Linked DNA regions of Homo sapiens. The protein of the gene in region 1 interacts with the protein of each later gene in a pairwise test. Each region holds a gene or a part of one and is shown in the gene's direction. Other genes may lie near its edges.

Region 1 (7,027 bases):
AGAAGTTAGTGTCCTAGGCAAGCTCACATGTATGAAATACTACACATTTGCATTGAAAAATTGTAATACATATCCACACAAATATGTATATGAAAAATAAAATAGAGATTTAAAATTATTTTAAGTTGATGTTTGAAAAGATGCTGAGTTAGATAAGAAAAAGGAGATAAGTGGAAACCTATTTTTATAACAGTTTTATTGAGATTATGTATCATAAAATTTACCCTTTTCAATTGTATAATTGAGTGATTTTTGGCATATTCACAAGGTTGTATAACCATCATTACTATCTAGTTGAAAGACATTGTCATCACCCCAAAAAAGAAACTCCATACCCATTAACAGTCAATCCTCGTTTCCACCTTCCCTTCCAGCTCCCGAAAACCACTTATATTTCTGTATCTATGGATTTTCCTACTCTGGATATTTCATATAAATGGAATCATACAATACGTGGTCTTTTGTGGCTGACTCCTTTCACTTAGCATAATCTTTTCAAGATTCATCAATATTTTAGCATGTTTCATTACTTCATTTCCTTTTTTTCTTTTTTTTTTTTTTTTTTTTTTTTTTTGGAGACAGAGTCTGGCTCTGTCTCCCAGGCTGTAGTGCAGTGGCGCAGTCTCGGCTCACTGCAAGCTCCGCCTCCCGAGTTCATGCCATTCTCCTGCCTCAGCCTCTCCCAGTAGCTGGGACTACAGGCACCCACCACCATGCCCGGCTAATTTTTTTGTATTTTTAGTAGAGACGGGGTTTCACCGTGGTCTCGATCTCCTGACCTCTTGATCCGCCCGCCTCGGCCTCCCAAAGAGCTGGGATTACAAGCGTGAGCCACCGCCCGTGCCCGGCCCTTTGTTTTTTTTGCAGCCGAATAATAATCCATTGTATGGATATACCACATTTTGCTTATGTATCATTTGATGGACATTTCTGTTATTTCCATTTTTTGGCTATTGCAAATAGTGCTACCATGAACATTCATGTACAAATTTTTGTGTGGACATATGTTTTCAGTTCTCCTGGAGTGGAATTGTTGGATTATAAGGTAGCCCATGTTTCACTTTATGAGGAGTCACCAAGCTGTTTTCCAAAGTGGCTGCACCATTTTACAATCCCACCAGCAATGTATGAGAGTTCTGTTTCCTCTCATCTTCACCAACACTTGTTACACCAACACTTGTTATTTTCTATCGTTTTTATTTTAACCACCCTCATGGGTGTAAAGTGGTTGATACCTCATTGTGGTTTTGATTTGCATTTCCCTAGTGGCCAGTGATGTTAAGCATGTTTTCATATGCTTATTGGCCATTTGTATATCTTTGGAAAAATGTCTGTTCAGGTCTTTTATTCAGTTTTTAATGGGGTTATTTGTCTTCTTATTGTTGTAAGGGTTCTTTATGTAGAAAACTATATTAAAAGTTTGAGCAGTGGGTTGAAGATTTTTTTCTTAAATCTTGTGTGTGTGTGTATACTTGGTGAGCATTTCCAAACATTTTAGAGTTTGATAACACTGGTTCTCTAATTTTATTTCCAAACTTACAGCTTTGTATTTTTGTGATATAGGTGTATTCATATATTAAATCATTTTTCCTAGGCTTGTTAACCAAAAATTATTTTCAAATCATAAATTCAGAAGTATAAGATGGAATGATGTTGAGGGTGAGCTTAATATCTATACTCCACATTTTTCAGCTGAGAAAAGATGACAGCAATCAAGCATGCATTACAAAGAGACATTTTTACACCAAATGATGAACGCCTGCTGAGCATTGTGAATGTCTGCAAAGCAGGAAAAAAGAAAAAGAACTGTTTTTTATGTGCCACAGGTGGGTATTTAGTAAGAAAGAGTACTTGTTTTGTATCCTTTTATTATTTAGAAGATATTTCCTCTTTGTTTTGAATATCCTCATTGTCTCTGTAATTGGAAAAATTGTTGGGTCAACACATTCCTAGTTAACACTTGGCTTTGACAGGCTGTTAATTGTTGTCAATCTGGTGGCAGTGAAATAGTATCTCATTGTGGTTTTAAATTATATTTCCCTATAATGATGAGATTGAGCATCTTCTCATGAATTTCTTAGTCATTTCATTCTGTTGTGTATGAAATTTACCTGTTTAAGCCTTTTACTCATTTTTCTGTTGTGTTGCTTGTCCTTTTACTGATTTGTACAAGTTCTTTCTATAATCTGGTTATCAACCTTTTGTTGGTTGTATGCATCCCAGTTAGTGGCTTGTCTTTTCACTTTTTATGATGCCTGTTAATGAAATTTATAATTTAAACTAAATGAAATTAATTAATCCTTTATGGCTTTCCCTTTTGGTGTCTTAAAAGATCCTTCCCTGTATCTTTTGTGCAGTCATAAAAATATTTTCCTAAATTCAAAAGTTTTATAATTTTGCCTTTTACAGTTTAGTCTTAGTTCACCTGTGTTGACATCTGTCATGGTGTGTGTGAGCATTTCTGGTTGTCATCTTATATGTTATTTTTATTTTGTTTTTGTTCTTTATTCCACCTAAATTTTAGAAACAACTTGTCGAGTTTCAGACTTTGTTGGGATTTTGATTGGAATTGTTTTGAACCTATAGTTCAATTTGGAGAGAACTTGCATTTTTATTGTATTGAATCTTTGTGTCCATGAACATGGTACAGTTCTCTATTTATCTAGGTGTTTTTTAACTTTATAAGTTTCATCATTTTCTCTAAAGGTTTGTCATGTATATTCTTGGATTTACTCCTGAGTATTGGTTTATTCTTAGATTTTATTTGATAGTCGTGAAAGCGCTTATTAACATTAATACATTTTAAAATCATATATTGTTAGAATTCTACAATGAATTGTTGGTGTTTTATATGGATGTCTATCAATCTTGCCAAACTTTCTTATTAATTCTAATTATATGTAGACTTTTTGAAAGTAGTGATATTTTTCTTCCTTCCTTTATAGTTTTTATATCTTTTATTTTTGTTGGTTTAGTTTCCTAGTTAGGACTATCAATACAGTCTCCATCTCAAGGAGAATGACTTCATTTTCAAGCATGGTATTTGGTATAGGGTTTTTATAGCTATACTTTACAGTGTTAAGTAAGTTCCCTTCTATTCCTGGTTTCTTACACTTTTTTAAAAAATCATGAATGGGAGTTGAATTTTATCAACTGCTTTTTCATATCATTGATATCATAAAATTTTCTTCCTTGTTAGTGTAGTATATAATTGTACTTGGTTTTTGAAATGATAAATTGACTTTTTAGAATGACCTCACTCAATCGTAATGTATTTGTATTAGGCCATTCTTGCATTGCTATAAAGAAATTCTTAGGCCAGGAGCAGTGGCTCATGCCTGTAATTCCAGCACTTAGGGAAGCTGAGGTGGGCAGATCGCTGGAGCCCAGGAGTTTAATTAAGACCAGCCTGGGCAACATAGTAAGAACTTTATATATAAATGTATTGTTGCTCTTTGAAATGGTATTTTGCTCTTTCAAGCCTCACAGACTTTACTTATGTCAATCATTCTTTAGATTTTTACCTCATACTTTTCTTTAAAACTGGTCTGAATTTATTATTAATATATCATTCCTTTATTTTTCAAGGAATCTCCTCTGATCTTCTAGTCTGACTTAGATGCTTCTATTAGGATTCTGTGCTTTCCTCGGTCATAGCACTTGTTGCAAAGTATTACACCTCTTTTAGTATCAGCTACTAGGCACCTGAAAGCTATACTTGCAATGAGTGAATGAAGAATGAGTGAAAGGGGTAATATTTCTAATAAAAGTGTGCGTTTTACTCAACAGTGACAACTGAACGCCCTGTGCAGGTTAAGGTGGTCAAAGTCAAGAAATCCGATAAGGGAGATTTCTACAAAAGGCAGATTGCATGGGCCCTTCGAGATCTTGCTGTGGTAGATGCCAAAGATGCTATCAAAGTAGGTTTTTCTCAGTTCTTTGACCTGTGTTCAGAAAGCATCTTTCATTTTATAACATGGTATTACATATTCTAAAATGATCTAAAAACAAATTAATATATATGTTTGTTTTCTTATTTTTTTGCTTTTTTTAAGCTATAATTATGTTTGTGCACAAGCTACATAAACTAGAGAAAAATTACTTTGACTGTATACATTTCTGTGTTTAGATTAAGTATAATTTGTATAAAATCTATACATAGTATGGATTTTAAAGTGGTGTGTCATGAGTTTTTTTTGCTTGTTTGTTTGTTTGTTTAATCAAAATCATATAACCAAAGTGATCCTTCCTTAGTCTTCATGAGTAAACATAGAATCACCAGCTGGGGCAGCCAGACTGGCCTTTTGAGGCCACCATGGCTTTGATGTTTGTGGATCAAAAAAAAAAAAAAAGAAATGATAGTGGGTTACATACCTTATTTTAAGGAATGTAGATAATAAGATCTATGAAGATATAAACTTACACGTTATAGATAAACCACACTCAAACTCCAAGAAAGGTGATTAATGTGATAATCACATTAAAGGACCACCTATGTTCCTGACAGTTCAAAGCTTTCACAGCAATACCCTTTTTTCAAAGCAATCAAGTTGGCCTCCTTTGATTAAATTAGGTGCTTCCTCCCCCTGGCCCTCTCTCACTCTGCCCTTCATCTTTCTCTGCAGCCCTAACACACCTCCATAGCACAAGAGAATACTTTGTACCACAACTACTTGTATGTCGATGGGATGAACATAATAGCAAGGCTTATACTAGTGAAACTACAGGTGCTCTTTGACTCTACAAATCTCATACATTTACTAAAAAGGCACAAAGTAAAAACAACAAAAAACAAAAAAACTGCCTGTGTAAAGCAATCTGTTAAAATAAAATTCTGATTTTACCCTTACTTTGGTACAAACCTCCAAGGATCAAAAATCTGGACAAAATGACAGGTAGTTGAGTTGGGTGCAAAAAAAATGAAGTAAGAACAATTTGAGGAGAGCCCTCTATATCTGTATAATTCAGATTTCTTCCAAATGTAAATCATGCCTTTTCTTTAAGTATTCTAGGCTTACTGGCCCTTTGTTTTATCCCTAAGGAGCACCCAATGCTTAGAAAAATGTGAAATGTAGAAACAGGATTTGACAGAAATTTAGAAAGCTAGAGATTGGAAAGAAAATTATAATGGGATGTTTAAAAATAATTTAGGCCAGGCGTGGTGGCTCACGCCTGTAATCCTAACACTTTGGGAGGCCGAGGCTGGTGGATTGCCTGAGCTCAGGAGTTCAAGACCAGCCTGGGTAACACAGTGAAACCCTGTCTCTACTAAAATACAAAAAATTAGCTGGGCGTGGCGGCACACGCCTGTAGTCCCAGCTTCTTGGGAGGCTGAGGCAAGAGAATTGCTTGAACCTGAGAGGCAGAGGTTGCAGTGAGCCGAGATTGCGCCACTGCACTCCAGCCTGGGCAACAGAGTGAGACTCTGTCTCCACAAAAAAAAACAAAAAAAAACTTCTGTAAGTAATTTTTATTACCATGGGGAGGGATCAAGAGTGGAAACTTTTCTGGTTGTTTTCTGTTAAGACAAAACACTTTAAGGGTTTTTAAAACTGCACCTTTATTAAAAAACATTTTTCCCTTCAGTAGTTTTGCACTTCGTAACCCTGTTGACTTGCATAATTCAGTAACATTGCTGAATGCTTATTTGAATGCATTCTCACAGCTGATGCCTCTTGCAGACTTGCTTAATGGATTTTTTTTTTTTGCATTTTATGTAGGCACCTTGGTGTGTGTATGCTATATATGGATATAAAACATAAAATTTTTATACATAACTTAACATTAGCCATTTAGTATCACACATTGATTTGTGAGTGTTGCCACTGGAGCACTCAGCTTCTTTTATGGTATTATGGGAAATATTCCCAGGGAAGAGATTATTTCCCATCAAGTTTCATATTGGTTGCCAATACTCTTGTTGTGTTTTTTTGTAAGTAATAATGCAATTACCTTTTCATTGTATATGCAGGTTTTAAATTTTTGACGCTTCAATTCTGTTTATTAAGCTATAAATTGAACTAATTAGTAGTTCCATGCTGCTGTAATATGATTGTTGTACCAAAGGTCAAGTCCTGATTCCTGAGATACTCCAGTTCTTCACAGTGAAAGTCTGATATAACTTCCCTTACTTTAATGTATTTACATTTCCCCCAAATAACACTTTAAATGAATCAAATATATTATTATTCTTTTACCCTGTAGAACATTAAGAATATTTGAGCCTATTTTTTAATTCCTTGGATGTGAAGTATACATCCATAAGTTTGTTTGTTTGTTTGTCTGCTTGTTTGTTTTGAGACAGGGTCTCACTCTGTCACCCAGGCTGGAGTGCGGTGGCACAATCTTGGCTCACTGCAGCCTCCACCTTCCGGGCTCAAGCCATCCTCCCACCTTAGCCTCCCGAGTAGCTGGGACTACACGTACATGCCACTACACCCGGCTAATTTTTGTGTTTTTTGTAGAGAAGTGTTTTGCCATGTTGCCCAGGCCAGTCTCAAATTCCTGGGTTCAAGCAATCTACCCACCTCGGCCTCCCAAAGTGCTAGGATTACAGGCGTGAGCTACCAAGCCCAGCCTGTTTTTTTATATAATAGTCAAGTAGTTCTATTCATTCAAGGGAGAAATATTAGCCTGATGTGGATTATTGCTATAATGTGGCTTAAGAGACTTGAAGAAACTATAGTGTAATTCTCTCAGATTGGTTGAGCTTCTTTATCACATGAAAGAACGTTAGGCCAGGAACAGGGCTCATGCCTGTAATTCCAGCACTTTGGGAGGCCGAAGCAGGAGGATCAACTGGATAACATGGGGAGATCTTGTCTCTACAAGAACATTTTAAAAATTAGGCATGCTGGTATGTGTCCGTGTCCCCAGCTACTCAGGAGGCTGAGGTTGGGAGGATTGCCTGAGCCCAGGAGGTGGAGGCTGCAGTGAACCATGATTGCACCACTGCATTGTAGCCTTGGCAACAAAGTGAGACCCTGTCTCAAAAAAATAAAGAACTTTGAGACCTAGCAGCACTTTT
Region 2 (7,027 bases), on another chromosome or scaffold:
TATATTTTTGTGAATCAGTAACCTTTTTTCTCTTGAAGACAGGAGTGAATGTACAAAACATACTTCTGGGAATAATTTGGTTTCACCAGATACAGACTACAGAGCTGGTTCTTCGTTTGAACTCTCTCCATCTGATAGCTCTGATGGAACATACATGTGGGATGAAGAAGGCTTGGAACCCATTGGAAATGTCCATCCAGTTGGGAGCTATGAGTCCTCTGAAATGAACAGCATAGTATGTATGGATTTATATACTCTTGGAATATTTTGTTTACCCTACTATAGAGAGACTTGTGATATGATTGATTTTGTAAAAAATTTATGAATTAACTTTACTACTTTGAGAAATGGAAATTCATATTTGTTAAGAGCCTATAAAATATCTGACTCTAATATGAAATAAAGCATGGAGAATATATGACATTTGACTTAAATATACTCAACATGTTTACATATATATTCCTCATACATATGTGCATACTATATTAGTAGTTTAATCTATGCCAGTGGTTCTCAAAGACTGGGGGAGGAGGTCAATGACTGGAGGTGGTTTTGGTTGTCATATTGATGAGTGCTTCTTGGCATCTAGTGGGTAGATGCCAAGGATGTTGTTTAACATCCCACAGTCCACAAGACAGAGACCACAATGAATTATCTAGCCTAAGATGGCAGTACTGCTGCTGTTGAGAAACCTTGGCCTGTGCTATACTGAGGTAACATTGAAGTGCCAACTCTCAGTGGGATAATACAATACAAGTGTATTATTTTACTCTTAGAAAGTTTGTTGTGGGTCTGGACAGCTCTCTAGGGCAGCTGTCTTTAGTGATCTAAACTACTTTGATTTTGGGGCTTGACCATCTTTTGAGGTCCCTTCTTTTCACTATGGCAGAGGAAGAGAGTGCCAGAGGGTCTCACACATATAATTACTTGCATTGGCCTGCAGGCAACACTTGGCACTTCCGTTCATGATCTGTTGACCAGAACTAATCATGTGGTCCCATCTGAGTACTAAAGGGACAGGAAGTGTAATCTTTGTGTGTGCCTGGAAGGCAAGGGAATCAGCTATGGGCAAGTGTTAGAAGACCTGCCATGAATTTATATGTGCATATTTTAAGAAACATGGCAAGTAATGTGGATAATATGCCATATGGGTAAAGTGTAATTGGTATGTTTAAAGTGACTCATTGCAGTTATTCAGTATATAAAATACGATTTTCCAGTAGTTGTATGGGAAAATTGGTAGTCTGTGGATATATTAAATTCCAAGTGGATTTCAGGCAATGTAATTTTCTATACTCCTATAAACCTTTTACTTAAGCCATTGTTAACGGAGGCTTAAATTGCACAAACATTTTTTTTAACCGTTGTCAACACCTTGCATACAAACATTTAATTTAGAGACAGTGTCTTCATCTCATTAGATAAAGGAGGCTCAGAAAAGATAACAGTTTAAGACCTTATATGCTGTCTTACTAGGAGTTTTAAGGCAAATATGATTGAAGTGCAAATGAAAAAGGTGTCCAGCAGATGGCAGCAATAAACCACTTAGTACCTGACAGTTTTTGGAGGCTAACCACCTTGATTCAGTTCATTGTTCCTGTAACTAATCACAAAATAGCTTTCTGTCAAAGATTTCAGAATGCATCTGGATTAACTGTTAGTCCTTAAGATCCATGAGTTTCCTCCTTGTTCAGTAGGTTTATGTCTATTGGTATGGGAAGAAAAAAACATCCATTCTGTGCTTTGGAACAAGATGGTGTTTCTGTCTTTCTCTTCTGATCTAAGGAGAAGATGACAAAGTCTGAGAAAGAATAGAGAGTTGATGGCAAAAGTTGAGAACCATGTGTTGAGTTCTCGTACAGTGATGTAGGATTTACCATTTTTGCTCTGAAGTTACGTGAATTTTTTGTTTTGTATAAATTTTAGGCGTGTACCTGTTCAGAATTGTTGGTTTGTTTTTTTTTTTTTTTTGGTGAATTGGACTTTCCATCATTACTTAGTGATCTTCTCTATCTCTAACTATGCTTTTTGTTTTCACACTCCTTTTTTTCCAAATATTAATATACCTTACCAGTTTTATTTATATATTTTCTCTTCTTTTACTATCAGCCTTTTTTATGTATAGCAAATAGTTTATTATTTTAAAATTTTCAGTTTGTCTTTTTCTTTTGACTAGTGAGTTTAATCCTTTTATGTTTGTATTGTTATACTTGGACTGTATTTACTCTGCCATCTTATTATTTTTATTTAAATTGTCTTGCTTTTTTTTTCTGTTTCTTTTTCTTTTTTTTTTTTCCTACAGTGGTTCAAAGTAGTATCTCTTACTTAACCCCTCAAGACCTTTAGCATATTCTCACTTTTCTTGTCTCTGCAACACTGCTTCTACCAGTCCAGGTAAAGATAAGGAGCTTTCACTAGAATGTACATCAACTGTGTCACTTCTAACACAGTTTAGTTCCACCCACTGTTCATTTCTGCTGACATTGTTTTTGTAGTAAGTCTTCCTTTTTGAAAGAAACAATGTGTTGATATACATTCTGATGCAATCTCCTAATCATGTCAAGGATCCCAACAAATAGTTTGTAGACTGATTACTTTTCATAACACCAGTCTAGAATCCTGGCTATTTATTTGTTTACATGCTACCAGTATTATGCAGAGGTCTGATTTACGTACAGTAAAATGCACAAATCTTCTGCAGACAGACCAGAGAATTTTGATAAATTTGTATGCTTGTTTGACAATCATCCATATTAAGATATAGAATACTCCCATCGCTCCAGAGTGTTCCCTTTCTGTTCCTTTCAGTCAGTCATTCTCTTACTCTGCAATCACTGTTGGTTTCGGTCACTATAAATTAGCTTTGACTGTTCTTGAACTTTATATAAATGAAATCATAAAGGTGCTGGTTTATATCTAGCTTCTTTTCATTAATATTATGTATTTGTCAGTTGTAGTTTCTTTACTCTTGTATCATATTCCTTTGTGTGAATATACTACAACTTATCTTATTGTTCATGGGCATTTAGGTTGGTTCCAGTTTCTGGCTATTAGAGTATTGCATGATTGTGAAGATTTTGATATATGTTTTTTTGGTGAACACTTATTCATTTTTGTTGGGAAAATGTGTAGGAGAGAGATTCCTGGGTTATAGGCTATGCTGATGGATAAAGATGCTGTCAGTGTTTCAAAGTGATTGTGCCTGTTTACACTCCCCACTGGCAGTAAATGAACATTCCGGAAAATTCACCTTCTTGTCTATTCTTGGTGCTTTCTGCCTTTTTGCATTTTTGCTATTTTGTGGGTATAGTAGTATTGCATTGAGATTTTGTCTTGTATTTTTTGATAACTACTCACAGAGCACCTTCACATATGTTTATTGGGCCATTAGGATATATCCTCTTCTGTGAAGTGTCTTGTGTTGGGTTTGTTTTCTTAATGATTTGTAAAAATTCTTCATATTTTTTGACATAAATATTTATTTTATATCAATATGTAGATGTTTGTATTCATGTGTATATTTACATTTTATATATGTAGAGTGTATTCTTTACTGTGAGTTGCTTTTGAAATCTCTTAGTGTCTGTTGATATAGAACTTACCAATTTTGATATTGTCCAGTTTTACAAGTTTTCCCTTTACCGTTACCACTTTTTAAAAAACTGTTTGTGAAGTCTTTTCCCACCTTAATATCATGAATATATGTTTCAATGTTTTGCTCTAAAAGCATTATTTATTTTTAACCTTTTACCTGTAGGTCTCTAGTCCCCATCTGGAAATTATTTTTCTGTATGGTGTGAGATAGATGTCACGATTAATTTATTTTAGTCATCTTTCCCCCACTGTACTTCAGGGTCATCTTTGTCATAAATCAGTGACTGCATATATAAATATTTCATTGCATAGACAAATATTTCTGTTTATTTTGTCAGTTATATGTTATTTTCATTATCGTAGCTTTAAAATAAATTTTGCTGCCTGGTAGGGTAAGTCTTCCAGCTTTGTTCTTTTCCAAGATTTCTGTAGCACTTCTTAACCTTTTGTATTTCCAATTAAATATTAGAATGAGCTTGTCCGTTTCCAGGAAGGACCTGCAGGGATTTTGAATGGGATTGCATTGAATTTATAGATGATTTTGGAGAGAATTGACATATTTATGATGGAGATATAGTCCTCCATTAATTTCAGACTTTAGAAATACTTCTTGCTAATGTTTTGTACTTTTCTATAAAATGTTATGCATGTTTGATTTTGACACTGTAAGTGGTACCATTTTTATAATTTTATGAGTTTTTGTTGTATATACAAATATACCTGATTTTTATCATGTATATTGGACTTTTCTAATAACCTTGTAAATTCATCTACTAGTTATAATAATTTGCCTTTGGATGATTTTGGAACTTGTATATACATTCTATAATCATACCATTTGCAAAAAAGTTGCCTCACCACCCCAGCGCTTGCCCTATTACACAAGTTAGGACCACCAACGTGATGTTGAATTGAAATGGTGATAGAATTTCAGAGAGAAAGCCTTAATAGTTCACCATTAAAGTTTTTGGGAGTTGAGAGGGAGTTTAATCAGAGTATGGAAATTCTCTTTTATTTTGTTTGCTGAATTTTTGTTGTGAATGAATATTAAGTTTTACCAAATGCTTTCTCTACGTCTGTTGAGATAATGAAGTTTTTTTTGTGTTAGTGTGGTAGATTGCATGGCTTGATTTTCAAATAGTAAACTACCTTTCCATTCTTAGAATACATTCACTTGGTCGTGATGTATTATCTTTTCAAATGTTGTTAAACTAGATTTTCTAATTTTTATATTTTAAAATTATTTTTTAAAATTAAATTTTTTTTTTTTTTTTTTTGAGACGAAGTCTCGCTCTTCTCACCCAGGCTGGAGTGCGATGGCGCAATCTTGGCTCACTGCAACCTCTGCCTCCCAGGTTCAAGCGTTTCTTCTGCCTCAGCCTCCCGAGTAGCTGGGATTACAGGCGCCTGCCATCACGCCTGGCTAAATTTTGTATTTTTAGTAGAGACAGGGTTTCACCATGTTGGCCAGGCTGGTCTCGAACTCCTGACCTCAGGTGATCCACCCGCCTTGGCCTCCCAAAATAGTGGGATTACAGGCATGTGCCACCGCGCCCGGCCTAAAAATTAATTTTTAGAAAAGAGATAGGGTCTGTCTCTTTTTGTCCAGTCTGGCCTTGAACTCCTGGGCTGAAGTAATCCTCCTCCCACAGTCTCCCAAGTAGCTGGGACTACAGGTGCATGCCACTATACCCAGCTCTGCTAATAGTCTATGTTTTTGCATGTATGTTCATGAGTAAGATTGTTCTACTCTGTAATTTTCTTGTTTTTCTACTTGTTCTTGCCATGTTTTGGTATCAAGATCATGCTGGCTTTATAATGAGTTGAGAAGTGTTTCTTATTTTTCTGTCCTTTGAAAGAATTTGTGTACAACTAATGTGCTTATTCCTTAGGTATGTAAAAGAATTTGCCAGAATTCAGCCTTCTGGACCTGGAGTTTTCTTTATGAGAAGGTTTTTAATAACAGTTTTAATTTTTAGATATTGGCATATTAAAATTTGTATGTATATTCGTGTTGGTTTTTGAAAATTTGTCCATTTCATCTAAACTTGTCATTTGTTGGTGAAAGTTGTTTAGGATTATCCTCTTTTTAACATCTTATAGGGACGTCTGCTTTTCATTCCTAATACTGGTTATTGGTGTTTCCTCTCTTTTTCTTCATTTCCAAGAACCAAATTTGGGCTTTGCTGATTTTTCTATATTGTGCTTATTTTCTGTTTTTATTGATTTTGGTTTATATCTTTATTTCCTTTCTTCTACTTTTCTTTAGTTTAATTTGTTTTTTCTTTTCCAAAGTTTTTGACATGGAAACTAGATAATTGATTTTTAGCCTTTCTCCCTTCTCTGGCATATGAATGAATTCTCATAAAGAGAAGCCTTTATTATTTGGGAAAGAATGCATTCAGTAAACACCCTAGTAGTAAATATAGCAGTTAGTTCTTTTTATGTGCGTTGTTTTAAAATTGTGAATTCTAAGGCATGTTGTATAGGCCATTATCCTTAATGCATTTATATATCCATGAACAATATACAGTATGATTTTGTACGTATTTTACAACTTAGGTAAGTGATATGTAATATTCTACAGGTTTCTTTTTTAACTCAATTTTATGTTTTTTGTGTATATGTGTATTTGTATTGTAGTTCTAATTCATATTTATTACTTTATAATATTCTGTCATTTGAATATACCTGTATTTTTCTCTGTTCCCCTGCTAATCTACATTTCAGTTATTCTTTATTGCTAATAATAATGTCTACATGGTGTAGCAGTGAACATTCGGATTCAATTCTCTTTGATCATATAAGTCAGTTTCTTTAGGATATAAACCTAGCTATAGCGTTCCTAGGATATAAAACTAGGAATAGTGTATTTTCAACTTTAATGATATTATCAAACTTCTCCCTAAAATGGTCCTACCAGTGTATACCTTCCAGTAGAGGATGAGAATTTCTGTCACTTATCATCTGAACCCCATATGTCGTCATCTGACTTCAACATTTTAATCAGTCTGGTGAGTGTGAGATGATACATAATTTTAATTTACATTTATACTATTATTGATTTTGTCATTTTTTTCACACATTTTACTGGCAGTTTTGTTTCCTTTTATGTAAATTTTTACTTCAGTGATTTTTCAGTTGGGTTTTGCCATTTTTCTTATTGATATGGAAGAGTTTTTTATGTGGTTGGAATTTAATTCTTGTTAAATGTGTTGCAGTAATCTTCTCTGAGCCTGTTGCTTCTGTTTTGTTTTTTGTATCTTTTTACCGTTCATAGTTTTTGCTTTTGACAATTAAATCTAGTAATGTTTTACTTCATTGTTTTTGCTTCACATGCTCATATATGGCGTGTGTGTGTAAGACACCCATTCCCATCCTAAGGCCATAGAGGTATTTTGTTTACAGAGAGATGTTATTGCATAATGATTAA
Region 3 (7,027 bases), on another chromosome or scaffold:
ACTACAGCCGCATGCTACCATGCCCGGCTAATTTTTGTATGTTTTGGTAGAGACAGGGCTTTGCCATGTTGGTCAGGCTGGGTCTCAAACTCCCGGCTTCAAGTGATCTGCTCACCTCGGCCTCCCAAACTGTTGGACTGTGCCTTGCCATAATCTTTTCTTTGTTATATGATTCCTTTAGTAATTGAGCATAGATTCTTTGTCTTTTCTAGTGTTTGGTATGATAATTTTGATCTTCAGGTAGGTGGTAGACATCATGTCTGTGTATCATTGTTAGTAGACAAGTACGTACTTTAATAAAAATGCATCTGTTTTTAATTAACAGAGAATTCTTGAATTGGAAAGTTCTTTGGAAAAAAGCTTACAAGAAAACAAAAATCAGTCAAAAGATTTGGCTGTTCATCTGGAAGCTGAAAAAAATAAGCACAATAAGGAGATTACAGTCATGGTTGAAAAACACAAGACAGAATTGGAAAGCCTTAAGCATCAGCAGGATGCCCTTTGGACTGAAAAACTCCAAGTCTTAAAGCAACAATATCAGACTGAAATGGAAAAACTTAGGGAAAAGTGTGAACAAGAAAAAGAAACATTGTTGAAAGACAAAGAGATTATCTTCCAGGCCCACATAGAAGAAATGAATGAAAAGACTTTAGAAAAGCTTGATGTGAAGCAAACAGAACTAGAATCATTATCTTCTGAACTGTCAGAAGTATTAAAAGCCCGTCACAAACTAGAAGAGGAACTTTCTGTTCTGAAAGATCAAACAGATAAAATGAAGCAGGAATTAGAGGCCAAGATGGATGAACAGAAAAATCATCACCAGCAGCAAGTTGACAGTATCATTAAAGAACACGAGGTATCTATCCAGAGGACTGAGAAGGCATTAAAAGATCAAATTAATCAACTTGAGCTTCTCTTGAAGGAAAGGGACAAGCATTTGAAAGAGCATCAGGCTCATGTAGAAAATTTAGAGGCAGATATTAAAAGGTCTGAAGGGGAACTCCAGCAGGCATCTGCTAAGCTGGACGTTTTTCAGTCTTACCAGAGTGCCACACATGAGCAGACAAAAGCATATGAGGAACAGTTGGCCCAATTGCAGCAGAAGTTGTTGGATTTGGAAACAGAAAGAATTCTTCTTACCAAACAGGTTGCTGAAGTTGAAGCACAAAAGAAAGATGTTTGTACTGAGTTAGATGCTCACAAAATCCAGGTGCAGGACTTAATGCAGCAACTTGAAAAACAAAATAGTGAAATGGAGCAAAAAGTAAAATCTTTAACCCAAGTCTATGAGTCCAAACTTGAAGATGGTAACAAAGAACAGGAACAGACAAAGCAAATCTTGGTGGAAAAGGAAAATATGATTTTACAAATGAGAGAAGGACAGAAGAAAGAAATTGAGATACTCACACAGAAATTGTCAGCCAAGGAGGACAGTATTCATATTTTGAATGAGGAATATGAAACCAAATTTAAAAACCAAGAAAAAAAGATGGAAAAAGTTAAGCAGAAAGCAAAGGAGATGCAAGAAACGTTAAAGAAAAAATTACTGGATCAGGAAGCCAAACTTAAGAAAGAGCTTGAAAATACTGCTCTAGAGCTTAGTCAGAAAGAAAAACAGTTTAATGCCAAAATGCTGGAAATGGCACAGGCTAACTCAGCTGGAATCAGTGATGCAGTGTCAAGACTGGAAACAAACCAAAAAGAACAAATAGAAAGTCTTACTGAGGTTCATCGACGAGAACTCAATGATGTCATATCAATCTGGGAAAAGAAACTTAATCAGCAAGCTGAAGAACTTCAGGAAATACATGAAATCCAATTACAGGAAAAAGAACAAGAGGTAGCAGAACTGAAACAAAAGATCCTCCTATTTGGGTGTGAAAAAGAAGAGATGAACAAGGAAATAACATGGCTGAAGGAAGAAGGTGTTAAGCAGGATACAACATTAAATGAATTACAGGAACAGTTAAAGCAGAAGTCTGCCCATGTGAATTCTCTTGCACAAGATGAAACTAAACTGAAAGCTCATCTTGAAAAGCTAGAGGTTGACTTGAATAAGTCTCTGAAGGAAAATACTTTTCTTCAAGAGCAGCTAGTTGAACTGAAGATGCTGGCAGAAGAAGATAAGCGGAAGGTTTCTGAGTTGACTAGCAAGTTGAAAACCACAGATGAAGAATTCCAGAGTTTGAAATCTTCACATGAAAAAAGTAACAAAAGCCTAGAGGACAAGAGCTTGGAATTTAAAAAACTGTCTGAGGAACTAGCGATTCAGCTAGATATTTGCTGTAAGAAAACCGAAGCCTTATTAGAAGCTAAAACAAATGAGCTAATCAACATTAGTAGTAGTAAAACTAATGCCATTCTTTCTAGGATTTCTCATTGTCAGCACCGTACAACTAAAGTTAAGGAGGCACTGTTAATTAAAACTTGCACAGTTTCTGAATTAGAAGCACAACTTAGACAGTTGACAGAGGAGCAAAATACACTAAATATTTCTTTTCAACAGGCTACTCATCAGTTAGAAGAAAAAGAAAATCAAATTAAGAGCATGAAGGCTGATATTGAAAGTCTTGTAACAGAAAAAGAAGCCTTACAGAAGGAAGGAGGCAATCAGCAACAGGCTGCTTCTGAAAAGGAGTCTTGTATAACACAGTTGAAGAAAGAGTTATCTGAAAACATCAATGCTGTCACATTGATGAAAGAAGAGCTTAAAGAAAAAAAAGTTGAGATTAGCAGTCTTAGTAAACAACTAACTGATTTGAATGTTCAGCTTCAAAATAGCATCAGCCTATCCGAAAAAGAAGCAGCCATTTCATCACTAAGAAAGCAGTATGATGAAGAAAAATGTGAATTGCTGGATCAGGTGCAAGATTTATCTTTTAAAGTTGACACTCTGAGTAAAGAGAAAATTTCTGCTCTTGAGCAGGTAGATGACTGGTCCAATAAATTCTCAGAATGGAAGAAGAAAGCACAGTCAAGATTTACACAGCATCAAAACACTGTTAAAGAATTGCAGATCCAGCTTGAGTTAAAATCAAAGGAAGCTTATGAAAAGGATGAGCAGATAAATTTATTGAAGGAAGAGCTTGATCAGCAAAATAAAAGATTTGATTGTTTAAAGGGTGAAATGGAAGACGACAAGAGCAAGATGGAGAAAAAGGAGTCTAATTTAGAAACAGAGTTAAAGTCTCAAACAGCAAGAATTATGGAATTAGAGGACCATATTACCCAGAAAACTATTGAAATAGAGTCCTTAAATGAAGTTCTTAAAAATTACAATCAACAAAAGGATATTGAACACAAAGAATTGGTTCAGAAACTTCAACATTTTCAAGAGTTAGGAGAAGAAAAGGACAACAGGGTTAAAGAAGCTGAAGAAAAAATCTTAACACTTGAAAACCAAGTTTATTCCATGAAAGCTGAACTTGAAACTAAGAAGAAAGAATTAGAACATGTGAATTTAAGTGTGAAAAGCAAAGAGGAGGAGTTAAAGGCATTGGAAGATAGGCTTGAGTCAGAAAGTGCTGCAAAATTAGCAGAGTTGAAGAGAAAAGCTGAACAAAAAATTGCTGCCATTAAGAAGCAGTTGTTATCTCAAATGGAAGAGAAAGAAGAACAGTATAAAAAAGGTACAGAAAGCCATTTGAGTGAGCTAAATACAAAATTGCAGGAAAGAGAAAGGGAAGTTCACATCTTGGAAGAAAAACTTAAGTCAGTGGAAAGTTCACAGTCAGAAACATTAATTGTACCCAGATCAGCAAAAAATGTGGCAGCATATACTGAACAAGAAGAAGCAGATTCCCAAGGCTGTGTGCAGAAGACATATGAAGAAAAAATCAGTGTTTTACAAAGAAACTTAACTGAAAAAGAAAAGCTATTGCAGAGGGTAGGGCAGGAAAAAGAAGAGACAGTTTCTTCTCATTTTGAAATGCGATGCCAATACCAGGAGCGCTTAATAAAGCTAGAACATGCTGAGGCAAAGCAACATGAAGATCAAAGTATGATAGGTCATCTTCAAGAGGAGCTTGAAGAAAAAAACAAGAAATATTCCTTGATAGTAGCCCAGCATGTGGAAAAAGAAGGAGGTAAAAATAACATACAGGCAAAGCAAAACTTGGAAAATGTGTTTGACGACGTCCAGAAAACCCTCCAGGAGAAGGAACTAACCTGTCAGATTTTGGAGCAAAAGATAAAAGAGCTGGATTCCTGCTTAGTAAGACAGAAAGAAGTACATAGAGTTGAAATGGAAGAGTTGACCTCAAAATATGAAAAATTACAGGCTTTACAACAGATGGATGGAAGAAATAAACCCACAGAACTTTTGGAAGAAAACACTGAAGAAAAGTCCAAATCACATTTGGTCCAACCCAAATTGCTTAGTAACATGGAAGCCCAGCACAATGATCTGGAGTTTAAATTAGCCGGGGCAGAACGGGAGAAACAGAAACTGGGCAAGGAGATTGTTAGATTGCAGAAAGACCTTCGAATGTTGAGAAAGGAGCATCAGCAAGAATTGGAAATACTAAAGAAAGAATATGATCAAGAAAGGGAAGAGAAAATCAAGTAAGTTTTATTTCAGCTTGAATATTTTTATGGCAGTCCTTCTTAATTAAGTCTCCTTTTTTTGTGCCTAATACAGTTATTTTAAATTATTTGGATAAGTTTCACCAACCCAAAATATTAAACATAAATCCAATATGTTAAATATGAGGAGAAATAAAAACAATTTAGGGCAAGTGGCAGTGTTATTCCATGTCCATTTAGGAGAGAAAAACCTTTTCTTGCATATAAGATTCTGGTTATTAGGGACATATCCAAGTAATTATTTTCTTTTTGTTTTGTTGTTTTTAGTATTAGCATTATTATTATATAACATAGATGTGTTTTGAAAAAAAAATTAAAGTGGAAAACAAAAATTCTCTGGTCCCCAGGACCACTACTTAGAGGTAATCATAGTTGATATGTACCTGGACACACACACACACACACACACACACACACACACACTCACTCTCACACTCTCTCTCTCTCTCTCTCTCAAAAATGTTTTCATACAATGAACTCATACTGTATGCACTGTTTTAAAGACCAGGTAGCTCCTTGCAGCTTGTTCTTTGTGTGGCAGCAGTTAACGGTACATTTTTATTACTCAGACAGGAGCAGGAAGATCTTGAACTGAAGCACAATTCCACATTAAAACAGCTGATGAGGGAGTTTAATACACAGCTGGCACAAAAGGAACAAGAGCTGGAAATGACCATAAAAGAAACTATCAGTAAGTAAAATTAAGTTCCATAAGGAACAATTATATCAGCAGAGGCTATAATTTAAGCTTATCATTTTTGCAGTGGTGGTAAGTGCATTAAGTCATTAAACTGGGGAAGAAATAATCCTTGCCCAATAACATTCTCTAATGGGAACCTGCCCTGCTTGGCAATGACTTACCTTAAGGAGAGAGGGAGCAGGTAAAACAATCTGAAAGTATTAGCTAATTAATTACCTTGTAAAGACACTTTTGCTCAGGGAGAGGATACATTTGATCACTGTTGAGCTAGATGTCTCATTAAACATCTTAAAATGCTTATATAAAATTAAATTTCATCAAAATTAATTGGAATGAGAGTTGTTACTGAAATTGAGATACAAATATTAACTCTTGACTAATGTGTTTTCTTGTGTGTGTTCATTTTTATTTATTAGATAAGGCCCAGGAGGTGGAGGCTGAACTTTTAGAAAGCCATCAAGAAGAGACAAATCAGTTACTTAAAAAAATTGCTGAGAAAGATGATGATCTAAAACGAACAGCCAAAAGATATGAAGAAATCCTTGATGTTTGTACCTTATTTCTTCTCTCTCACTTTTGAAATTTAGCTGTAATAGATTTCATGGTAGTGCCAAAGATTTCCTTTTCAAATGTGTTTTTTGAACGAAAAGGGTTTTTTTTTTTGACTCAATATTATTCAAATTAGTACTGTTATATGCAGATTTATAAAGTTGAGTTGATTTCTGCCAGGATTGTAGTTTCCTGATGAGATTCTGCTAACTAGGCAGCACAGTCCCCTTGCTAGTATTGAAGCAACAGTAGATACTAAAAGGAAGAATAGATTCTTTCCCATCTGCCTCACAGATTCTGACTGAACTGTGAGGGGAACCAGACTAAGAATCAAGACCCTGTGCTTCGGTGAAGTCTAAGTAATGGGATAGTGAGTGTGTATTTAAATGTGGCTGCTTAACTTAGCTGGAATCTTTCTGGGAGGGACAATCAACTTTACTCTTATCTCTACCCAGTGTGTGGAGGTTGATTGGTCTCAAGAGAAGAAAGCTGGGAAAAAATGGAATGCATAAGCCAAATCTTTTATATTTAGTGGAAGGTTATTTCAAAATACTTACTCTACTAATGCCATGTTGCAATTCACAGAATATGCCACTAATGCATTGCCATTAGCAAAATAAGATAAGCCATGAAGATACACCATGAAGATAAATCATAAATGCTAGTTAGTACTTTGGACTAACATTTGAAAATGTTTTCAAATGTAATACAATATAAATTGTTCTTGGTTGGGTTACAGATTCTGTAGTTGCTCTAAGCCTTATTTCACTATATGCTAAGAATCTTTTGGTGATTAAGAATTCATAAATCAAAGAATCATACCTCAGCTGACTATGTCAGCAGAAGTCTGAGTCGGGAACAGATTCTAATAATTATTTTAAATGTAATTGAAATGGCTAGAATTCCAAGATATAACACATGCCTATAAATGCCACCTTTTATAATTCTTGAGCTTTATATGTCATTATGAAAAGATTTAAATAATTTCACATTTTCTTATACTTCCATAGAGGATATATGTGCTAAATGAAAAAAAAAAAGTATTATTTCTTGAATGCCTAGAGAGTGTTGGAAGATACAGTAAAGCTAGTTTAGTTCTACTTTTTTTTTTTCTGTTTTTGTTTTTCAGAAGGAAAAGCCAGTTCAGTGTAGTTAAGTAATTTCCCTAAAACTACATAGTGGTAGAGCAGTGAT
Region 4 (7,682 bases), on another chromosome or scaffold:
CGAAAGTTCATGTGTTAGAAACTTGATCCCCAGTGAGAAGGTGTCAGGAGTTGGGACCTTTAAGAAGTGTTTAGGTCACAGGGGCACCACCTTCATGGATGGATTAATGCCATTACCATGGGAATAGGTTTCTTATCGCGGGAGTGGGTTTCTTATAAAAGGAGAAGTTCAGCTCCCTCTTGCCCTCTATCTTGCCCTCTCTCTGCCCTTCCACCATGGGATGATGCAACAAGAAGGCCCTCACCAGATGCCAGTGTCTTGATTTGGGCCTTCCCAGCCTCCAGAACCATGAGCCAATATATTTCTGTTTCTTATAAATTATCCAGTCTGTGGTATTCTGTTATAGCAGCAAAAACGGACTATGACAGGGTGACTTCTTTCAGTTTTAGTAGGCTGTAGAATTTGTTTCACATTATTTTCACCTGCAAGGTTGTAGAAAGCAGTCCAATGCCAATCTGATTCTTTTTTCTTTACAATTAAGTTGTTCTTTCTTTCTGGGAGCTTGTAAAATGATCTTTTTTTTTTCTTCTGAGTTAAGAATTGTGTCTGTATATAACTGGGTCTTTTTTCATTAATGTCATCTATAATTCTAAAATCCTTTCAATCTGTAATTTTATATATTTTTTTGGTTCAGAGAAATGTTTTCCAACTATGGTTTTCCCTCCACCTGTGTTATTTCCTCATTCTGAGATTCCTATTATTCACAAGTTAGGTCTTCTGGATTTATCCTCTAGCTCTCTTACCTCCATATAGGATTCATTAAATCTTCATTTTCTCCGATTCTCCAGTCTACCCTTCCCAAAGCATCAGTAATATATTACTTACAATAAGAAATACTACAGAATTTGAATATGGCCATCTTCCAGTAGTACTAAATGGGAAAAAGCTCATAATTCACTATAATAATCAAATAATTTAAATTACCAAAGGATATCAACAATAAATGTTATTAAAGAATAGTACAAAATTATAAGTATAAAATTGAATATTAGTAGACTAAATGGGGTAAATTATTCCATAAAAGAAGTTTCTTCAGAATTTCTATTGAGAATAGAAACATCACATTTATCACTTTTCAAGTGATGTACTTTTACAAACCACATGCAGCAAGACCCTTATTCAAATACCTTAATAAAATATTTTTATATACATGTCAGATAATCTTAAAATGTTAGAGCCTAAGATCAGCTCCTTTCACTGATTTCCACCCCCCTCCCACAACTAAGGATAGACTACTCTAGGAGAGAATGTGGAAAGAAAAACCTTTCTTCTCTGTGTTCATTCTTTAGACTCACAGAGACTGTTTTGTTAATAATCAAGCATTGTAGTCAAAAGCAAATAGGAAAGCAACTCAATTTTTCATTGAAAAACATTTATCAAAAAAAGAAAAACATTTATCTTTTTTTAAAAATGCAAAAGCTGTTGTTGCACTTTAAATGTAATTGCTCTCATTGCTAAAGAACATAATTTGGGTGAATAGTAAGTTTCAAAGGATAATTAGGCACTTTACACAAAAGAGAACATCTGCAATCATCCCAGGAATGATGAAATTACAGGGCTATCAATCCTTGTGCTTCAGGGCATGGACTGATCACCAGCTGGAAGACAGAAGATATCCCCTCAATAGTATAATATTTCTATAATATTACCAATTACATTTCAATTTTTATTCCCTTTTAAACATAAGTCATTGGGGGGCTATAAAGCACATTATGGCCAAACAGTGCAACATGAGGGGAAAATCTTCAAAGGCCTTCAAGAATATTTTAAAGAAATGGATTCAAAGAAAAATAGTAAACTTTTGGCTGGGAGCGCTGGCTCATGCGTGTAATCCCAGCACTTCGGGAGGCTGAGGCAGGTGGATCACTTGAGGTCAGGAGTTTGAGACCAGTCTGGCCAACATAGTGAAACCCTGTCTCTACTAAAAAAAAAAAATGTAAAAATTAGCCAGGCATGGTGGTGCACACCTGTAGTCCCAACTACTCAGGAGGCTGAGGCACGAGAAACACTTAAACCTGGGAGGTGGAGGTTGCAGTGGGCCAAGATTGTGCCACTGCACTCCAGCCTGGGGAACACAGCAAGACTCCAGTCTCAAAAAAAAAAAAGGAAAAAAAAAGTAAACTTTCAGAGAAGGTGAGCAGAATATCATAGAAGTTAACAAAGAACATTTTGGGTACTTATCACATTCAGAGCTTGAAGAGAGTAGAACTCAGCACTTGTTGAATGAATGAATGAATGAATGAATGAACAAAGGAACAAACTTATATGTGTCCGGGTTCCAATCCCAGCCTCACCATATTTGACCTTGAGTACTTAAGTGTCTTTGCTTATCTTCAGTTTATTTATCTGTAAAATGGGAATAATTGTGCCTACCTCTTCTTGTAATTACAGGGATTTAACCAAGTAATGTATACAAATAAATAAATCCCCTGTTTGGAACAGGGTGAACTCTCAACAAATGAGTCATTTTAAGAGCTCTCCTAGGATTGACTGATTTAGCTAATTCCTAAACAAACAGATCTAACAATGAAATCATCTCAAGCGACTTCATAATAGACCAAATCTTTCTATATTGACTATATTATAAACCTGTGTTGTTCTTTTTGCGAACCCAACACTGCATTACACCATGAGACATCCTCTAAAATTCTTCTTTACTTTGAACTAAGCATAAACTTTCTGCTAATAAGATCTCTTAGATGATATACTATTATAAGCAGAGTTCAAACTCATACAAAGTGTAACAGCTGCTCACCTTGCTGGTCCAAGATATTGTGACTTGTGGTCAAATGCATACAAAAGCCATAAAAGGACACTCCTTTCTAATATTTTCTCAATAATTAACTTTCATTACAATTCAATTAATACTATATTGAATATAATTATTAGTAATTTCTCTTGGGACCTATAAATTAAGTGTATCCTGCAAGTGCAGCTAATGTCCCAACCATACCTGAAGAAATTTTATCTATGTCTGTAAACAGAGTGCATATACCTTTGGATGCTCTGGTCTCAACTAGTTGAAAGCCAGCTTAAAAATAAATCACGTCACATTTATGATTAACATGGCTTTAAATAACAATGGGGACTTTATTCCCCCACACAATGATCAACTACTGTTCTCACTGCAACTAAAGATGTTGAAAAGATAACCTAGTTTATTGGACAATTTCTACAAGGGCAGTGTAATAAAATGTCCATTTTTTTTCTGGACAATAAAGTACTTTTAAATTATCAACATAGCTGCATATAATCAAGTTATCTCCTGTCTGGAAGGTGGAAAATTGGAATATTTCTAGAACTTGCAAAGAGTTTTTGTCCTTTACTTCATGAATCATTCAGCAAAAGCCGGCTATGTACTATTTCAAATGTTACTACCTCAGAATGTCACTTGACTCAAAGATTTTCCTTTCCTTTTCTTCTTCCTCCCTCCCTTTCTTCCCTTCCTTCCGCCTTTCCTTTCCCCCCCCCTTCCTTCCTCCCTCTCTCCCTCTTTCCCTTCTTCCCTCCCTCCCTCCCTCCTTGTACAGGGACTAACACTAGAATCACCGCCTCACCATGCCCCTCGTTGGAAGAAACAGAAAGGCACACGATGCTGTAAGCTATGGCAGATGCCCAGGGCACGTGGGGTTGAATAATGCTGTTTGGAGTGAAACACTGAGACTCCGCAGTCACACAGTGATTCATTTACAGAGCTTTACTAAACTACGGGCACTCAGAAATAGACAAACTGTTCTTGCCTCAACCGAACCAAAGGCCCAGCGGGCCTCGAAAAAGCTCAGCCAGGTGCTTTGGGAGGCCGCGAGGAGGAAGAAGGATCCGTGGAAGGAAGCACGTTCACACCACGGCACTGAGGCCTCTGGGCCGAGCTATAATTTAAAGCATGAAACGAAGGGGTCATAGATTCTGACTAATGCTGACCATTTCCATCGGTTACCCAGTTGAATCTCATGTCGACACTAGGAAATCGACTTTATACATGCTCTTTAGGAAACGAGGGACGCAGGATGAAAGAAGCCAAGAGTGTCGCCAGGGCTTGCGCCAGCGCCGTCAGACTCCCGGGATGGGGGAGCTCCAGGGCACGGCGTCAGCGGATTCACGGAGAAGGAGAAAAGCCCCACTGCCGTGCAGAAGCCTAGGCCCGGGTGAGACGCCTGCGAAGGCTGCCAGCAGCGGAAGAGAAGGGGCGTCCTCCGTGCTGCGCAGCACTCGCCCGCGGTAGGTGGGCGCGGAGCTCAGAGCTGGGAGCCAAACGCAAACGCTGGCGAGAAGCCCCAGCCCCCTCCGGCAGCCCACTCGCTGCGGGGAGGGGTTTCTCACGCCCCCAGCTCCTGGGAGACTGCACCGGAGGTCGGAAGTAAGCCGGGCGAGGATGAATCATCCCGCCTAACTCCTCCTTCCCGGTCCCCTAGCCTCCGCACGCCGGCCCCCTTCAGAGATCTTGCAGCCGCGAGCGAAGACTGCCCTATCCTCAGACTCTACCGAACCCCCTGTGGCCTGCGGAGACGAGGAGACGGACGGGTCTGGTGGCCAATGAGAGCTTCGATCTCTTGCCCCCCGCCCAATGGGCCGCTGCTCATGGGCCGGGGCGGGACTAGGAGGGCAGGTAGGGGCGGTCCGGGCTGGCGCGCGGCGCGGCGGCTACGCGGCTGCGGCTCACAGAGCTAGCGCCTCTCTGGGTGTCCGTGCCAGTGCTGCGCGGGAAGGCACCACCACCACAGCCGCCGCCGCTGGCCAGGGTGCTGGACAAGACGGGCCCGTCGGCCACCTCGCCAGCTCAGGCACCCGCTGCAGCCGTCGCTGTCTCCTCCCAGACCGGTCCCCATGGAGGAGATGGAAGAGGAGTTGAAATGCCCCGTGTGCGGCTCCTTCTATCGGGAGCCCATCATCCTGCCCTGCTCTCACAATTTGTGTCAGGCGTGCGCCCGCAACATCCTGGTGCAGACCCCAGAGTCTGAATCCCCCCAGAGCCATCGGGCCGCGGGCTCCGGGGTCTCCGACTATGACTATCTGGACCTGGACAAGATGAGCCTATACAGCGAGGCGGACAGCGGCTATGGCTCCTACGGGGGGTTCGCCAGCGCCCCCACTACCCCGTGCCAGAAGTCCCCCAACGGCGTCCGCGTGTTTCCCCCGGCTATGCCGCCACCGGCCACCCACTTGTCACCGGCCCTGGCCCCGGTGCCCCGCAACTCCTGTATCACCTGCCCCCAGTGTCACCGCAGCCTCATCCTGGATGACCGGGGGCTCCGCGGCTTCCCCAAGAATCGCGTACTGGAAGGGGTAATTGACCGCTACCAGCAGAGCAAAGCCGCGGCCCTCAAGTGCCAGCTCTGCGAGAAGGCGCCCAAGGAAGCCACCGTCATGTGCGAACAGTGCGATGTCTTCTACTGCGATCCGTGCCGCCTGCGCTGCCACCCGCCCCGGGGGCCCCTAGCCAAGCACCGCCTGGTGCCCCCGGCCCAGGGTCGTGTGAGCCGGAGGCTGAGCCCACGCAAGGTCTCCACCTGCACAGACCACGAGCTGGAGAACCACAGCATGTACTGCGTGCAATGCAAGATGCCCGTGTGCTACCAGTGCTTGGAGGAGGGCAAACACTCCAGCCACGAAGTCAAGGCTCTGGGGGCCATGTGGAAACTACATAAGGTGAGTCCTAAGAAAACCCACTCCTAACTCCCTGCGTCTCCGATCATCCGGTTTTGCAGCAGACGGTCCCCGTCTCTTGCGCACAGCGCATCCCAGTGGGGGCGCAATGCAGGTGCCTTCGATGTTTACCTCCCTGGTCTGGTGCATTGCAGGAGGCATGGGGGAATCTTAACCGGCGCACGGGGGAGTTGAATGCCCCCACAGAGTTGTTGCGGGGATGCCTTAGAGCGGGTCTCTCGGGGCGCGCTGCCTGCGAGCGGGACTCAGGGCGCCCCCTTTCCGCGGCGGGTCTGCAGCCAGTGGCCGCGGCCAGTGTGTGGGAAAGCACTGCATAGCTGGGTAGAGCCGCGCCAGTGCCCAGGGCCGCTAGGCACGCTCGAGGGCAGGGCGGGCTGCGAACCCTCGGGGAGGGACTGGGATGGGGGCGGTGGGGTCGCGCGGACGGCGGGAGTCTGTCGCTGCTGGATAGGCGGACCTGGTGAGGCACGGCGGAGGGTCGGGGAGACGCCGCAGGCGGAATACTGATGAGCCCGGCTCTGGGCCAGACCTGGCTCTCGAGCTGGAGAGAACGCGGGGTCCTGGTGCCACGTGCTCAAAAGACAGAGCGGAGAGGGCAGCCAGCGGTCGCCATGGCAACGCGACGTGCAGGCTTGGGCCTGAACCCTTCCGGAGTTGGGACCTGAGACTAGAGTGTCAGGACCGGAGTTTGCGCAGTCGCGGCCTGGAAGCCAGACAGGTGCATCTCCTAGGGAAACCTTCTCCTCCCAACTATACACACACCCACTTCTCCGGAATTCAAGCCCTTTCCTCTTTCAGTAGTTATATGTGCAAACTTTGGGACACCTGTTACCAGATTTATCTTTCCAGTCTCTTTTGATGATATTTCCACCATGGCTAGACACGAAGAGGCTTTAGCAACATATTCTGTCGTGCCACTCCTCTGCTCAAAACCCTCCAATTTTTCCCACGCTTCTCAGCCTGTCCTACATGACCTCTTCCATTTTGGCCCCTTCGACCTCATTGCCTCCCACTTACTCCCTCTGCTCCAGCCACACTGCTTCTTACTGTTCCTCAAACGACGCCAGGCACCTCCCTACTCCAGGGCCTTTGCATTTGGTGTTCATTCAGCCTGAAGCTCTCTTCCCCAGTTACCTGAGATCCGAATGGGTCACTTACCTGCATCCTTCAGCTCTTTGCTCAGGTATCATCTTTGCAGCGCCACCCACCCAGACACCCGCTAGTTCCCTCTCAGCTTTATTTTCCTCAGTAGTATTTATCCCTGTGTGGCATGCTATATATTTTAATTATGTTATTTTTTGTATTTATCTATTGCTCCCTGTACACACACAGACATAAACGAAATAAGCCTCATGAGGAAGAAGATCCTTATAATATGCCCACACTGCTTAGAAGGAAGGGAGCAACTCTTGAGGAGATGTGCATGAATTTGCTTTTCATTTTTTAAATGATCCATTTAGTTGGGGCTGTGGAGTGCAGGGCAGGGATTCAGGATGGTTGGAAGGAGCTTTTCTTTACATCACTGAGTTGCATACCCAAGGATGAGATGGAGCAGTGAAGATAGTGTCCAGGCCTCAGCTGTGGCCTTGCTCAGAGTCTCCCAGAATTCCTTGGAGACTAGAAAGGGTAGCTTTTGCAAGTGGCCAACTGTGGAGTTAAGGCTGGAACATTGATATTTTGTTTACAGCAAGAAAAAAATGTCATTAATTTTCAGCAATCAGTGAAAGTTTTCTCAACTCCTTAACCCGGTTGAATGTGATCCATGTTTACAGTCATTCTATTCTCACATATAACCTATTAAATCATATTAGTACTGATGGGGATTTCATTTAGCACAAATTGAAGCCTAACTGGGCACACACCACTGTTTTCAGAACAGTCGAATTTAAATTTTTGAAAATGACATTTAATTTTGAAAGTTTTCAAAACTTGAGTTCACAGCTAGTTTTTTATTCATATTTTGATTTCACTTTTAAACTGCTAATTATAGTCCATGTTGAATTGCCCTACAAAGTATC

What was found.
Region 2: the proteins of EXOC1 (region 1) and CCSER2 interact in a two-hybrid assay, tested with the Homo sapiens proteins (2 studies listed by BioGRID and IntAct).
Region 3: the proteins of EXOC1 (region 1) and GOLGA4 interact in binary tests that used the Homo sapiens proteins (3 or more experiments, as listed by UniProt).
Region 4: the proteins of EXOC1 (region 1) and TRIM9 interact in a two-hybrid assay, tested with the Homo sapiens proteins (2 studies listed by BioGRID and IntAct).

The regions. Positions count from the first base shown.
Region 1 is NC_000004.12:55,856,622-55,863,648, forward strand, and holds part of EXOC1 (exocyst complex component 1), read left to right. Parts: intron 1-1,692; 5' UTR 1,693-1,702; coding exon 1,703-1,826; intron 1,827-3,789; coding exon 3,790-3,920; intron 3,921-7,027.
Region 2 is NC_000010.11:84,373,581-84,380,607, forward strand, and holds part of CCSER2 (serine-rich coiled-coil domain-containing protein 2), read left to right. Parts: intron 1-38; coding exon 39-235; coding exon of another isoform or gene 236-325; exon of another isoform or gene 326-421; intron 422-7,027. UniProt on the Homo sapiens protein: Microtubule-binding protein which might play a role in microtubule bundling.
Region 3 is NC_000003.12:37,323,263-37,330,289, forward strand, and holds part of GOLGA4 (golgin subfamily A member 4), read left to right. Parts: intron 1-325; coding exon 326-4,563; intron 4,564-5,153; coding exon 5,154-5,275; intron 5,276-5,700; coding exon 5,701-5,831; intron 5,832-7,027. UniProt on the Homo sapiens protein: Involved in vesicular trafficking at the Golgi apparatus level. May play a role in delivery of transport vesicles containing GPI-linked proteins from the trans-Golgi network through its interaction with MACF1. Involved in endosome-to-Golgi trafficking.
Region 4 is NC_000014.9:51,092,082-51,099,763, reverse strand, and holds the start of TRIM9 (E3 ubiquitin-protein ligase TRIM9), read left to right. Parts: upstream 1-4,658; 5' UTR 4,659-4,824; coding exon 4,825-5,646; intron 5,647-7,682. UniProt on the Homo sapiens protein: E3 ubiquitin-protein ligase which ubiquitinates itself in cooperation with an E2 enzyme UBE2D2/UBC4 and serves as a targeting signal for proteasomal degradation.